4 linked regions of the Homo sapiens genome follow. The protein of the gene in region 1 purifies or fractionates together with the protein of each later gene. This does not show direct contact. Each region holds a gene or a part of one and is shown in the gene's direction. Other genes may lie near its edges.

What was found. The genes of interacting proteins can lie anywhere in the genome.
Region 2: the proteins of ATP6V1A (region 1) and NDUFA9 fractionate together in Homo sapiens (co-fractionation; one large-scale study listed by BioGRID). This does not show direct contact.
Region 3: the proteins of ATP6V1A (region 1) and PRKAG1 fractionate together in Homo sapiens (co-fractionation; one large-scale study listed by BioGRID). This does not show direct contact.
Region 4: the proteins of ATP6V1A (region 1) and VDAC2 fractionate together in Homo sapiens (co-fractionation; 2 studies listed by BioGRID). This does not show direct contact.

What each region holds. Positions count from the first base shown.
Region 1 is NC_000003.12:113,753,535-113,757,034, forward strand, and holds part of ATP6V1A (V-type proton ATPase catalytic subunit A), read left to right. Parts: intron 1-3,500. UniProt on the Homo sapiens protein: Catalytic subunit of the V1 complex of vacuolar(H+)-ATPase (V-ATPase), a multisubunit enzyme composed of a peripheral complex (V1) that hydrolyzes ATP and a membrane integral complex (V0) that translocates protons.
Region 2 is NC_000012.12:4,680,114-4,683,613, forward strand, and holds part of NDUFA9 (NADH dehydrogenase [ubiquinone] 1 alpha subcomplex subunit 9, mitochondrial precursor), read left to right. Parts: intron 1-2,091; coding exon 2,092-2,187; intron 2,188-3,500. UniProt on the Homo sapiens protein: Accessory subunit of the mitochondrial membrane respiratory chain NADH dehydrogenase (Complex I), that is believed not to be involved in catalysis. Required for proper complex I assembly.
Region 3 is NC_000012.12:49,005,277-49,008,776, reverse strand, and holds part of PRKAG1 (5'-AMP-activated protein kinase subunit gamma-1), read left to right. Parts: intron 1-177; exon of another isoform or gene 178-351; intron 352-2,924; coding exon 2,925-3,034; intron 3,035-3,184; exon of another isoform or gene 3,185-3,233; coding exon 3,234-3,315; intron 3,316-3,385; coding exon of another isoform or gene 3,386-3,412; coding exon 3,413-3,471; intron 3,472-3,500. UniProt on the Homo sapiens protein: AMP/ATP-binding subunit of AMP-activated protein kinase (AMPK), an energy sensor protein kinase that plays a key role in regulating cellular energy metabolism.
Region 4 is NC_000010.11:75,220,796-75,224,295, forward strand, and holds part of VDAC2 (non-selective voltage-gated ion channel VDAC2), read left to right. Parts: coding exon 1-175; intron 176-1,456; coding exon 1,457-1,607; intron 1,608-3,500. UniProt on the Homo sapiens protein: Non-selective voltage-gated ion channel that mediates the transport of anions and cations through the mitochondrion outer membrane and plasma membrane.

The sequences.
Region 1 (3,500 bases):
GGAAACAAAGGGAATGCCTGTTAATAGGGGTATTGTTATGTAAATTATGGCCGAGGCATTTTATGGAATGTTGTGAAGTGATTAAATGGTAGGAGTTAAATCTACTGGTGATTAGAAAGGATTTCCAAGTACATTCTGAAAGGATTTCTATCATGTGTCTTTTTTTTTTTTTTTTTCCTGAGACAGGATCTTGCTCTGTTACCCAGATTGGAGTGTACTGGTGCTGTCTTGGCTCACTGCAACTTCCTCCTCTTAGGTTTAAGCTATCCTCCCGCCTCAGCCTCCAGAGTAGCTGGGGCTACAGGTGTGCACCACCACACCTGGCTAATTTTTTGTATATTTGGTAGAGACGGGGTTTCACCTTATTGCCCAGGCCATCATGTATCTTAAGAAAAAAAAATACAAAGTACAGAGAAACATTTGTAATGATAACTCATTTTTTATAAAACCAGTTGAAAAACACCATGAGTTTTGTATATTTTTACCTGGTTGTCACCGTTGGAAAGAGGAAATAAGCAGAAAAGGAAAGAGACAGAATATCCATAGTAACATATTTATATAAAACTACATGTTTGTACATGTCTGTGTATATGATGGATTATGGGAAACAATGGGCACTAAGATGATTTACTTTCTTCCTTACACTTTACATTATATGTTTTTATTTTTACAGTGGACATGAAGTGTTTCTGTAATTAGGAAAAACAGGCTGGGCATGGTGGCTCACGCCTGTAATCCCAGCACTTTGGGAGGCTGAGGCAGGTAGATCGCTTGAGCCCGGTGTTGGAGACCATCCTGGGCAACATGGCAAGACCCCCCTCTACCAGTAAAAACTAAAAATTAAAAAAATTATTTGGGCACGATGGCATGCACCTGTAGTCCCAGCTACTCAAGAGGCTGAGGTGGGAGGATCACTTGATCCCGGGGCATTCAAGGTTTCAGTGAACTGCGAATGTGCCACTGCACTCCAGCCTGGGCGTCAGAGCGACACCCTGTCTCAAAAGTAAGAAAAAAAAAAAGAAAAGAAAAATGTACCAAAAAATGATAGGGACTACTAGATAGGATTACAAATTTGGCATGTTATTTTTGGTATGGATAGTCAGTGCTATCGACACGCTTTCTGCCTTAGAGTGTAGAGCACATTGCACAAGTGTGGGATCTGTCACCTGACTTAATCATATGACAGAATCATAAGAAAAGTCCCTATTTGGGTTTTGGCATATAAACTGGATTACAAGATTAACTTGCCTTAAGAAAACTTTAAACAAGAACTTCTTTAAAGAAGCAAAATAAAAAGTACTTATAATTGTTTAATACTTGATTTCTGTCCTTTTAAAAGTATCTCCGTAGAATACATCATTCAAAGCCTAGACAGAAAATAGCAGATGCTTTAGAGTTGGATTTGTTGCATACTTAAAGTAGCTGTATTTTTTTCTCACATTGGTATTACTTCCCCTTTTCATTACCAGTTTTATTAATTGCATATATGTGCTTTAATGTAAGCTGTCCAAAGTTTTTTTTACAAGAGTTGGGATATATGTAAATAAAAATAATTTTAGAGTAGTATTAATATAACAAAGAGATGAAGGAAACCAGACTGTGTGAGTCAAATCCTGGCTCTGCTTCCTAGTGGTGTGACTTTGGAGGAGTTACTTGTGTCTTTTTGCATTGCATTTTTCTCAACTTTAAAATAAGGATAATAAGAGTATTTAACTTCATTGGATGTTGTGAATAATAGAAGCGATTGGAATAATAACTAGCACATAAGGACCGTATATATATTTGCCAGCTGGGTGCAGTGGCTCACACCTGTAATCCCAGCACTTTGGGAGGCCGATGCAGGCGGATTGCTTGAGCCCAGGAATTGAAGGGCAACATGGCAAAACCATGTCTGTACAAAAAAAAAAAAAAAAAAAATTAGCCAGGCGTGGTGGCACACACATCTAGTTCCCGCTATTCGGGAGGCTGAGGTGGGAGGATTGCTTGAGCCTGGGAGGCAGAGGTTGCAGTGAGCTGAGATCGTGCCACTGCAGACCCTGGGTGACAGAGCCAGACCCTGTCTCAGAAAAATATATATGTAATAATAATATGTGCTATTATTTGCTCAGTCAATTAGGTGCAATATATAATAGTTTTACTTGGCTCAGTTGTTTTAACATTCATTTACTCATCCAACAATATTTTTAATTCAGTTGAATGGGTAATACATGTACAAATATGGTAAAATTTATATATTCATACAAGTGTGTTTTCTCTCCCCTCATCCTTATTCTTTTCTTCCCCCATATATTTATCCACAAATGGTAGCACCTCTTCGTATTATTCTGGACCTTACATTTTTCGCTTGAGTATTACGTTGGAGATCTTTTCACATTGATACAGTTAAAACTGCCTCATTCTTTTTAATGATAGTTTAGTATTCAATTGTATTAATATACCCTCATCATCATATGTAACATTTATTGAGAGCTTACTCCTGATCCAAATGCTTTCTTAATACTTTAGTTTTATTAACTCATGGAAGCCTCATAACAACCTATGAGATAGGCACTATTTTTCTATATTTAACAAATGAGGAAAACTAGGCACGGGATGATTAAATGTCCAACAGTCACACAGTTTATAAGTGGTAGGGCTCAGGATTAGAGCCCAGGGAGTCACTTTCCAGAGATTGCTGCCATAATACCGCTAAACATGTAGCCTGTCATAGTATTACAAGGTATTTAACCAGCCTCCATATTAATGGACATTCCAATCTTTTGCTTAAGAAACAGTGCTATAGTTAATATTTTGTTAATAGAACATTTTGTACATCTACAATAAATTCCTAGAAATGGACTAGCCATGTCAAAGGTAAGTACAATTTGAATTTTGGTGGGCACTGCCAAATTGCTCTCCAATTTAGGGATGTTCAGAAGTTCACCTTTGTCCTTAGTAATTTGCCAAAATCTGCCATTTAGCTTGGGTCTTTGGAAGGTGTGCTTTTAACATTTCTAGCATCCCTGAATTGTGTGTGATCTACCATCATGTAATAGCTTAAGTTACTATCATATGGAATTAATGTAACAATGTCAGTATGAGAGGTGTGACCTTTGGACTTACTACTTTCAAATAACAGTAAGTATTTTAGATATAACTTGAAATACTCCTTAATGTGATTTATACATTGAAATTCTATCAATCGAAGTTTGAATAGATATTGTTGAAAAAGTAAAATGCTGTAATTGTTAATAATTGTGAAGTTGCTGATTTTATGTACCAAAGCAATTATGTAAGAGTGTTCAAATAGTTAAATAGTGAATCAGATTGCATTTGAACATTAAGAGTGTGGTAGCTAGCTAAATAGAGGAATAGCTGGGTCCTTTCTTGTGAAAAGTGAGTTTTTGATAATCCGTGAGTCCTAGTCGTAGGTAATGCAAAATGAGGTAGCGAGGAGCTTTATTTAGATGAGTTATAAAATCCACAAATTATTTTGAATATAACACACTTGGTTTCAGTGC
Region 2 (3,500 bases), on another chromosome or scaffold:
CAGAAAAGTGTGTGGAAAATTTGAGGACAGAAGATAGAAAGTATGCCCTGGGAGAACAGGAAAGAGCATTTCCTAGGAGAACATGTGGGATTGCCAAGCAGAACTGAGTGTTCCATTGGAAATTACTGATAAAAAAATAAGGTGAAGTCAATCAGTTCAATTGTATTTCGTCTACAGTTTTGTCCTTCTGGGGTTTCAGGCTCAGAGAAGGCACATGTTTGGGTCAACCAGAGTGAGTTTTGCTTAGCAAGTATAGTGGGTAGGGGCCTGGGAGACAAGATTTTGCTGAGGATATTTGCAGAGGAATAACTGTGATGCTGAGCCTTGAAATCTAAGCTGGGAGGATGCGGGCTTCAATGTACCTTTGGCTGTGAGGAAGGGCACTTAAACTAGTGTTCCGGTTGCACTTGATGGAACACAAAGTGCTTCAGAACAGCTGAAAAGGAAACCTATTATGTAGAGTTAGTTAACCCATGATACCAGTTTTGTTTGTCATCGTAAAAATTCAAGTTGCTCTTGGCGTAGCATGTATTATATGTCCTGTAATGATCCTTACAAATCCCTCTGGAATTTGAAGAACCCTGCTAAGGCCTTTGTCTGATATTTCTCCTGGCTGATAGTTTCATGTTTTTTAGTAAAGTATGTCAGAATAATGAGGTTCTCACTGAATTACCTTCACTCAGCTCTTGGTTGTCACAGATTTACTGTCATGAAGCATGCAAATGAATTAGGAAATGGGTAAAGAAATATTAAAATGCATTATAAGCACTGATACTTATTAATGCTAGGTTAAAATCGTACAGAACTATTCAGATTAATGGAATAGAGCGGAACGTTCAGAAACAGTCCCATTATATGTAAGGATATAGTATGTGATAAGGGTGACATTTCAGTATAGGGAAAGAGGCAGTACAGTAAATGATTCTGTAAGTAGCATTGAAGCAATTGGCTTACATCTTGGGAAAAATATAATTACATGTTTACCTTATATAATGTACAAAAATACGTCACAGAAGGAACTTTATAGTAAAAAAAAAATCTTTTTTATAAGGTTTAGACAAAATATGTAGAAATTTATGTCACTGCAGAGGAATTTTCTAACTATGAATCCAAGCCATAAAGAAAATCAGTAGTTTTGGTTAAATTAAACAGTTAAAATTTTATGTGCACAAAACACTGTAAATAACACTAAAAGTTAAAATACAAACAATAAAAGGTATTTCCAACAATATCACTAAAATATAGAGAATTCTTACAAATTATTTTTATAGACAGGGACTCCAGGAGGAAAGAAAAGATAGATGTATAAATGACCAAAAATTCGTGAAGAAATGATCTCTCATATTAAAGACATAATAATTAAAACATGAGATACCTTTTTTTTTTTAACCTAGCAGATTGGCAAAAATTTTATTTTCTTATGACAACTCATTTCGGGTGGAGGGGGCATTCTTATATATAATTACATATATATAATTATAATTTATATAATTATCTAAAATGTTATATACTTAACATTTTATATAAATTGATAGAACCATTTTGAAAAGCAGTTTAGAAGTATTCAATAAAAGCCTTAAAATTTTAAAGTCTACATTGACCCAGTTCCACTTCTACAAATATATTCTAAATGCGTAATCATGGATAAGTACAAATATTTATTACAAGAATGTTCATTAAAACATTATAAAAGAAAAAAATTTTAATAGCATAAATATCTCAAAACTGGCAATTGATAAAATAATTGTGATTACATGCAGTGTAATATGTTGTCATGAAACATGCAATAAAATAATGATGTGGAAAGACGATTATGATGTAATGTTAAATGAAAAAGACATTACGGAATAGAATGGATTGTGTATTTATTAAAAGCAGAATAATGTATATATGTAAGGGGATGAGAAGGATATAGATCAAATATATTAACTATCTTTCATAATGGGATTATGGGTGATTTTTCTTTGTGCTATTCTGTATCTACTACAGTGCATATATGTTTCCTTTTTTATAAGGAAAATGTTATTTTGTTATAAAGGAAACTTTGTGAGAAGCGTGTAATTGAAAGAACTGTGTATTGTCTTTTTATAGTCCCAGTCGGTACCTCCTTTTCCACCTGGTGAAGTACATCTTTGCTGTGGCTCACAGATTGTTCCTCCCATTCCCCTTGCCGCTTTTTGCCTATCGGTAAGTAGAGTGCTCCTTTTGTGTGACTTCTGAAAAAGCCAGCTCCACACACTTGTTCCTAATGTTCTCCCTTAGGGTTATAGGGTGTGTGAAGGGCTGGTCTCCAGATCTCCTAGTGTTATGACATTAGCATAGAGAAGAAGCAGAAATAGATTAGTGTTGGTTAAAAAAAAATATATTGGAACATTAAATCTTCCCAATTCCCAAAAGTGAATCTTCCCACTTCCCAAAAGTGAAGATGCAGTTCTTCACTTTCTCCAATTTAAAACCATCGAGTTTAATTTTGGAGAAATATCTTGCTAGGCACATATGTAAGGGGCAGTCAGGTTCCCCTGTGTTTCATGTCGCTCATTATTAAATCAACCTGATCATGCTATTGGGGAAAGGAGTCAGGCTAATTCAGACTTGGATTTGTGGTTGCCTTCTCTTCTTTCCCTGCTTCTTAGTTTACTTCTTCTCTTTGTGGGTTAAATATCTTTGACTTGGCTGGGAGTGGTGGCTCATGCCTATAATCCCAGTACTTTGGGAGGCCAAGGAGGGCAGATTGCTTGAGCCCAGGAGTTTGAGACCAGCCTGGGCAATATAGCGAAGCCCCATCTCTACAAAACATACCAAATTAGCTGGATGTGGTGGCATCTGCCTGTAGTCCCACCTACTGGGGTGGAGGTGGGGTGATGCAAGAGAATTGCTTGAGCTTGGGAGTTCAAGGCTTCCAGTGAGCTGAGATTGTGCCACTGCACTCCAGCCTAGGTGACTGCTACTGCGCACAGTGGTGCACACCTATAGTCCCAGCTACTTGGGAGGCTGAGGTGGGAGGATCACTTGAGTTCAGGAGTTTGAATCCAGCCTGGACAACATAGTGAGACCCTGTCTCTGGAACAAAAAAAAAAAAAAGAAAGAAAAGAAAAACCTACTGCCCTGAGGTAACTGTTGATGGGAGCTCCTTTCTCGTCCTAGGTTTTATATTGTCCTGATTTGAACCAAATAAAATAAAATCTTGAACTTACCATGTCACACCCTAGTGGTCTGGTTAAGGAGACTGTCACATCCATTGTGCCACAAACTGATCTTCATTTGGGTTTTCATCCATTCATTCAACAAATGTTTATTGAATGCCTACTATGTCTTAGATAATGTACTAGGTACTCAGAAGGTTACAACAAACACTCAAAAATCTTATGGTCAGAATGTTACAACAAAAACTCAAAAATCTTATGGTCTAACAGGGGTACCAGAAAAATAGACCACTAGAATGCAGGGTGATAACGATATTTATTGAGTGTTACACCTTTCAGACTATTCACTTTGTCTCC
Region 3 (3,500 bases), on another chromosome or scaffold:
CCAGCAGCTAGCAGGCAATGGAGCAATGCCTTCAACATTCTGCAGGAAAACACATTCCAAGCTTTCCTGCAGATTCTCTATTCAGCCGAATTATAAATCCAAGGATGAGGGTAGAATAAAGATATCTACAGGCTGCAAGGTCTCAAAAACACATACCTCCCATGCACCCTTTCTCAGGAAGCTACTGGAAGATGTGTTCCACCAAAATAAGGGAGTAATCAAAAAAGATAAAAACGCGATATAGGAGCACCAGTAGAGGACAGACGTGAAAGGGGTACCCAGGATGGTGATGAAGAAAGATCCCAGGATGACAGCAGTGCACACCAGACAAACCAGCCCAGATTTGAGCAGGTCAGAAGGCTCCAGGGAGATTTCTTTGGGTAGTTTAAATTTTGATAGACTGTCTAATGCTTTTGAACCTCTTAAAAGGAGATTTAAATAGTTGGTGAAGCATTTGGGGGTTGGATTAGTTATAAGAATTATACATAGAAAATTAAACAAAAGGACAAGACATTAACTCCAGGTAAAACAAAGTTGTGAAGGAAGAAAAAAAAATCAGAGTTTACTATTTGGCTTATCTCTGAATAATAAATATTCAGTCAAAATGATTTAAATACTGGCCGGGTGCAGTGGCTCATTCCTGTAATCTCAGCACTTTGGGAGGCCAAAGCGGGCAGATCACATGAGGTCAGGAGTTCGAGATCAGCCTGGCCAATGTGGTGAAACCCTGTCTCTACTAAAATACAAAATTTAGCCGGGCATGGTGGCGGGCACCTGTAACCCCAGCTACTTGCGAGGCTGAGGCAGGAGAATCGCTTGAACCTGGAAGGCTGAGGTTGTAGTAACCTGAGATCGTGCCACTGCACTTCAGCCTGGGTGACAGAGCAAGACTCCCTCTCAAAAAAAAAAAAAAAAAAGATTGAAATACGGATATAACCAACATTATGGTTTAGCTCCTGGAATAATGAGGAGAATGGGAAGTACGTGTTTGTGGTGGAGTCCTAGTAGGAGAGAGAACTAGAAATTCTCATCTTCTTTGGTAGATAGATGATAAATAATGCCCCAAAATGAAAAAAAAAATGGAAACTAGCAATACAAGCATGTTATTTAAGGACATAGAATTAAGTACCAAAATAATCAACTAAGGTAGATAGATGTTCTCATCTCTGGGGAAGGGTAGTACAGGGAGGTGGGTTGCAAGGAGTGCAATTTTTTCTTAACAAAATTTGTAAAACTGTTGGACTGATTTAACTGTGTGTCTATATAACTTTGGTTAAAAAAATAAATATTAAAAACCAAATTGATTAAAGACTTAAGAGCATGAAGTTTGGAAACAGATCTGGGTTTGTTTGAGTCTTTCTTGCCACTTATTAATGGTGTGACCTTGAGCAGTTTATTTAACTACACCTATTTTCTCATCTGAAACATGAGGACATTACTTACACATTTGTTGTAAGGATTAAATTATGTAATTTTTTTTTTTTTTTTTTGAGACGGAGTCTCACTCTGTCGCCCAGGCTGGAGTGCAGAGGCACAATCTCGTCTCACTGCAACCTCCACCTCCTGGGTTCAAGCAATTCTCCTGCCTCAGCCCCCTGAGTAGCTGGGACTACAGGCACGTGCCACCACGCCTGGCTAATTTTTATATTTTTTTAGTAGAGACGGGGTTTCGCCATGTTGGCCAGGCTGGTCTCAAACTTCTGACCTCAGGTGATCCACCCACCTTGGCCTCCCAAAGTCCTGGGTTACAGGTGTGAGCCACCACGCCCAGCCAATGTAATTTATTTATTTATTTATTTATTTTTTTGACACGGAGTTTCACTCTTGTTGCCCAGGCTGGAGTGCAATGTTGCGATCTCGGCTCATCGCAACCTCTGCCTCCCGGGTTCAAGCAATTCTCCTGCCTCAGCCTCCCGAGTAGCTGGGATTACAGGCATGCGCCACCATGCCCGGCTAATTTTGTATTTTTAATAGAGACAGGGTTTATCCATGTTGGTCAGGCTGGTCTTGAACTCCCGACCTCAGGTGATCCTCCCACCTTGGCCTCCCAAAGTTCTGGGATTACAGGCATGAGCCACCACGCCCAGCCTCAATGTAATATTTTTAAGTGCACGTAGTATAGTATGTAGCACATTCAAGCTATTATTTTGGGAGATTACTTCCCTAGTTTAGAGCAAGCAATTAAAATCACAGGAATAGAAAAAGGTAAACTAGCCAGGATCTCCCATTTGTCTAGAGTAGGTGGGATGATTTCTGATTTACAGGGTGATCCCAGAATGGACTATCAGGGTGTTTTGAGCCAGGTTGATTGAGCACTGGGCTCCAACTTATTGTTAATGAGAAATGGCCCAACTTGGACCATGACTTTCCCATTTGCAGGTCTTAGAATAATTTTTTTTTTAATTGAGACAGGGGTTCGCTGTGTTGCCCAGGCTGGCCTCGAGCTCCTGGGTTCAAGTGATCCTCTGCCTCAACTTCCTGAGTAGCTGGGATTACAGGTGCTTGCCACCATCCCCAGCACAGTCTTGGAAGAATTTTAAGAAGCTTACTTCATTGAAAAAAGAGGAAAGTGAAAATGTGCTAAGTATATGAAAGGGAAAGCTTGGATTAAAGATGAGAAACATTTTTAGACTATAACATGTTAAAGAGAGATACTATAGGCTTTATGTTTTAGTCAACTTCTTTTACCTATAGGGACCAATAGATAAAGTCTTAACCTGGAGACAGGGGTTGGATGAAATGGTTTCTAAGAGGTTTATCCAGGTTTTGTGGAAACAATAGGAACAAGACAGATAAAATAAGGGGTCTTATTAAAAAATAATGCTCTAAATATTTGAGATACTAGAACACTATTTTGTTTTCTGTCTCTTTTGATTGGGAGTTTTTATGTGGAAGGAAGCTACTAACTATCCCACCCTATGCAGAGACCCCAGAATCCAACAATAGCGTGTATACTTCCTTCATGAAGTCTCATCGCTGCTATGACCTGATTCCCACAAGCTCCAAATTGGTTGTATTTGATACGTCCCTGCAGGTGGGTGAAATCCTCTTTTCCCTTCCCCCTTTGGAGCCTGTGGTTTAATACCTCTCATCCTATCTCATCCTAAGGGTAATATCCTTATCCTTCTGTGAAGTTAGTCTCATGTTTTACCCAACATGCCCAAACACTGTTCTTTTTTTACAGTCCTGCCCCTGTGGATTTGCCTTTATGATTATTACTGTCTTGGCTACAGGTGAAGAAAGCTTTTTTTGCTTTGGTGACTAACGGTGTACGAGCTGCCCCTTTATGGGATAGTAAGAAGCAAAGTTTTGTGGGTAAGCAAAAGTTTCTGGAACACAATATTATTGGCATCTTGTGCTGGGCAGGGAGACAAGCTTCAGGCAGTGCTGAGGGCTCTGTCTTGTCCTCTAGGCATGCTGACCATCACTGATTTCATCAATATCCTGCACCGCTACTATAAATCAGCCTTGGTAAGGAACCTTAACCCAATGACCAAAAT
Region 4 (3,500 bases), on another chromosome or scaffold:
GTTGTGATGTTGACTTTGATTTTGCTGGACCTGCAATCCATGGTTCAGCTGTCTTTGGTTATGAGGGCTGGCTTGCTGGCTACCAGATGACCTTTGACAGTGCCAAATCAAAGCTGACAAGGAATAACTTTGCAGTGGGCTACAGGACTGGGGACTTCCAGCTACACACTAATGTGTAAGTATTTCTTTCATAGGATACTGTGATGTGGGCCCTCAGAGGATGATTTTGATGTCTGTCATCTTATTGATCTGGGTGCACCCTAAAGGATTTCTCATAACATTTAAAAACAAAATCATTCTTGGTCATTTCTAGGGTGCCCCTTGAAAGTTTATAGTAGAAGACTGTTAGTCTGACCTTTGGTGCTGAGAGAGTAAATGTTCATTTTATATGGGGTTTAATGTGCTTTGTATTTTTACAAGAGGCATTATATATTGGCAGACTGCTACCAGTACATTCATTTTACTTAATTATTTTGATGTGTGAGATGCTGACTTGATAGGATTGCCTAAAATGTATGGTGTTTTGTGGTTGGGTTTTTTTTTCTTTTTCTTTTTTCTTTCTTTTTTTGTTTTGGTTCAGACAGAGTCTTGCTCTTTTGCGATCTCGGCTCACTCCAACATCCGCCTCCCGGGTTCAAACAATTCTCCTGCCTCAACCTCCCAAGTAGCTGGGACTACAGGCGTGTGCCACCATGCCTGGCTAATTTTTGTATTTTTGGTAGAGACGGGGTTTCACCATGCTGGCAAGGCTGGTCTGGAACTCCTGACCTCGTGATCTGCCAAAGTGCTGGGATTACAGGCGTGAGCCACTGTGCCCGGCTATTGTTGTTTTTTTGTTTGTTTGTTTTTAATTATTTTTGTAGAGATGGGGTCTTGCTATGTTGCCCAGGCTTGTCTCAAACTCCTGGCCTCAAGCGATCCTCCCGCCTCAGCCTTCCAAAGTGTTGGGATTATAGGCGTGAGCCACTGCATCCAGCCTGGTGTTTTTACCTAGCCCAAACTAGATAGATACATAGAAAGTACTTAAAATGTTTTTCTTTCCATTGTAAAAATTCATTGGTAAATAACAGAAGCACAAAGAAGAAAACCTACGTTTCTTACAATCATGCCAGCTAGGTATATAATCTTTGTTAATGTTGTGGTTCACCTTTTTATATGTGTGTGTATATATACTTATATATAAAATACGTAACCAAAAGGCTGTTTGAGAACCTCTTGCATGTTTAATACAGTGTGATAATTCCACTGAATGGATATTCTGTGGTTCATTTTACCAATCCCTGTATGGGTATGGGTTGGGGAAAAAAACCTGTTAAAACTTGCAAGTTTTCAGTGGAACACTAAAGACCCACTTGAGCTGTGGTTTTTTATTTAAATGTAATGCTACAAATCAGCCTGTGCCTTAGACATTATTACATTGTCTATTCTAGATCTACTAATTTAAAATATCTTATAGCAATGATGGGACAGAATTTGGAGGATCAATTTATCAGAAAGTTTGTGAAGATCTTGACACTTCAGTAAACCTTGCTTGGACATCAGGTACCAACTGCACTCGTTTTGGCATTGCAGCTAAATATCAGTTGGATCCCACTGCTTCCATTTCTGTGAGTACTTTTGTGGACTTAGAATGGGGGTTTTGGTTGTGGGAATGAGTCTTTGGGTATACTGAATTATGTTGAAAATTTGAACTGATTTCACACAGTCCCCAGTTTACAGATAGATTAGTTTTAGATTTTGAAATGCGCTTTTTTGATGGATACAGTGTTAGACGTTTTATTTCCAGGCCAGGCTGGTGGAGTTTGTTTAACCTCAAAAGCTGCCGAGTTAATGTTGATGATAACCTTGAGCCATAGGCCTGTCTAAGTCCAGGTATAGCTGGTGTTTGGTCCCTGAGTGGTTCTTACTGTGTCAGAAATAATAGTGCTTTTTTAAGGCTCTCTGTTGTCGAGGCTGGACTGCAGTGGCACAATCACGACTCCCGGCACCTTGACATCCTGGGTTCAACCTCAGCCTCCTACTATTCCCAACTAATTTTTTGATGTTTTTTTGTAGAGATGGGATCTCCATATGTTGCCCATCCTAGGCTCAAGCTATCATCCTGTCTCAGCCTCCCAAAGGAGGCTGTTGGGATTATAGGCATGAGCCACTGCACCTGGCTAGTATTTTAATCATCACTTTGTCTTTTTTTTTTTTTTTTCTTTTTTGAGATGGAGTCTCTGTCGCCCGGGCTGGGGTGCAGTAGTGCGATCTTGGCTCACTGCAACCTCCGCCTCCTGGGTTCAAGCAGCTCTTCTGCCTCAGCCTCCTGAGTAGCTGAGATTACAGGTGCCCGCCACCACACCTGGCTAATTTTTTTGTATTTTTTAGTAAAGATGGGATTTGTTGGCCAGACTGGTCTCAAACTCCTGACCCCAAGTGATCCACCCGCCTCAGCCTCCCAAAGTGCTGGGATTACAGGCATGAGACACCACAGCTGGCCGCCTTCTCCATTTCTAATTGCACTACAGCAATAAAAACCTCAAGATTCATACAGTACACTATTCTGTTACTTACATTGATGTTCTTGGATGTCTGTGGCATTTTAACAGATTTAATGTAAGTGGAAGAAGCTTCTCTCAGCTACTAGGAGTTCATAGTTAAAATGGGAAGGCAGCTTGGGACCCCTGTGTCATTTAATGACTCCTGGGAATTAGTTTGGAAATGTACCTAGCCTTTCCCACTTCAGTAATGTTAGCTGCCACTCCAATTCAGCAGTACCCAGAAGCATTGCTTAATGCTCCTTGTGATATTAGGAAGTATATATTTGGTTCTCCTTCCCTCTCCTGGCATAGAACTCCTAAAAAATCCTTGGAATCCCGAAAGTATTAAGTATCTTTTTGTATGCTAATGAGTTTTGACTGGTGGCTGGCCACCTTTAGGTAGCTTCGGGCTGGAGGCTAGTCAGTGGAGAGACCAAGGTGTGATTAGAGGGGGTGGGGAGAGGGGCTGTAGGTTTAATTGTTCACCAATGGCTAGTGGTTTAATCAGTCATGCCTGTATAATGAAGCCTCATGAAAACCCACAAGGACAGAGGTCAGTGAGCTAGGTAGCTGAGGTTACTGGAAGGTGGCATGTCTGGAGAGGGCATTGAAGCTGTGTCCCTTCCTATGTTTTGCACTGTACATCTCTTCATCTGTATCCTTTGTAATATCCTTTATTAAAACTGGTAAATGTAAATAAAGTGTTTCTTGAGTTCTGTGACCTGCTCTAGGAGATTAATTGAACCCAAGAAGGGGCTTGTGGGAACCTCTGTTTAGAGGTGCCAGGTCAGAAGCAGAGTTAAAACAACCTGGGGCTTGCAGTTGGCATCTGAAGTGGGAGGAGGGCAGTCTTGTGGGACTAAGCCCTTAACCTGTGGCATCTGATGTCTCCAGGTAGAATTAGAGGACATTTAGCCAGTGTCTGCTGCAGAAATTATTGCTTGCTTGGTGTGTGAGGAAAGCCCTCACACATGTGGT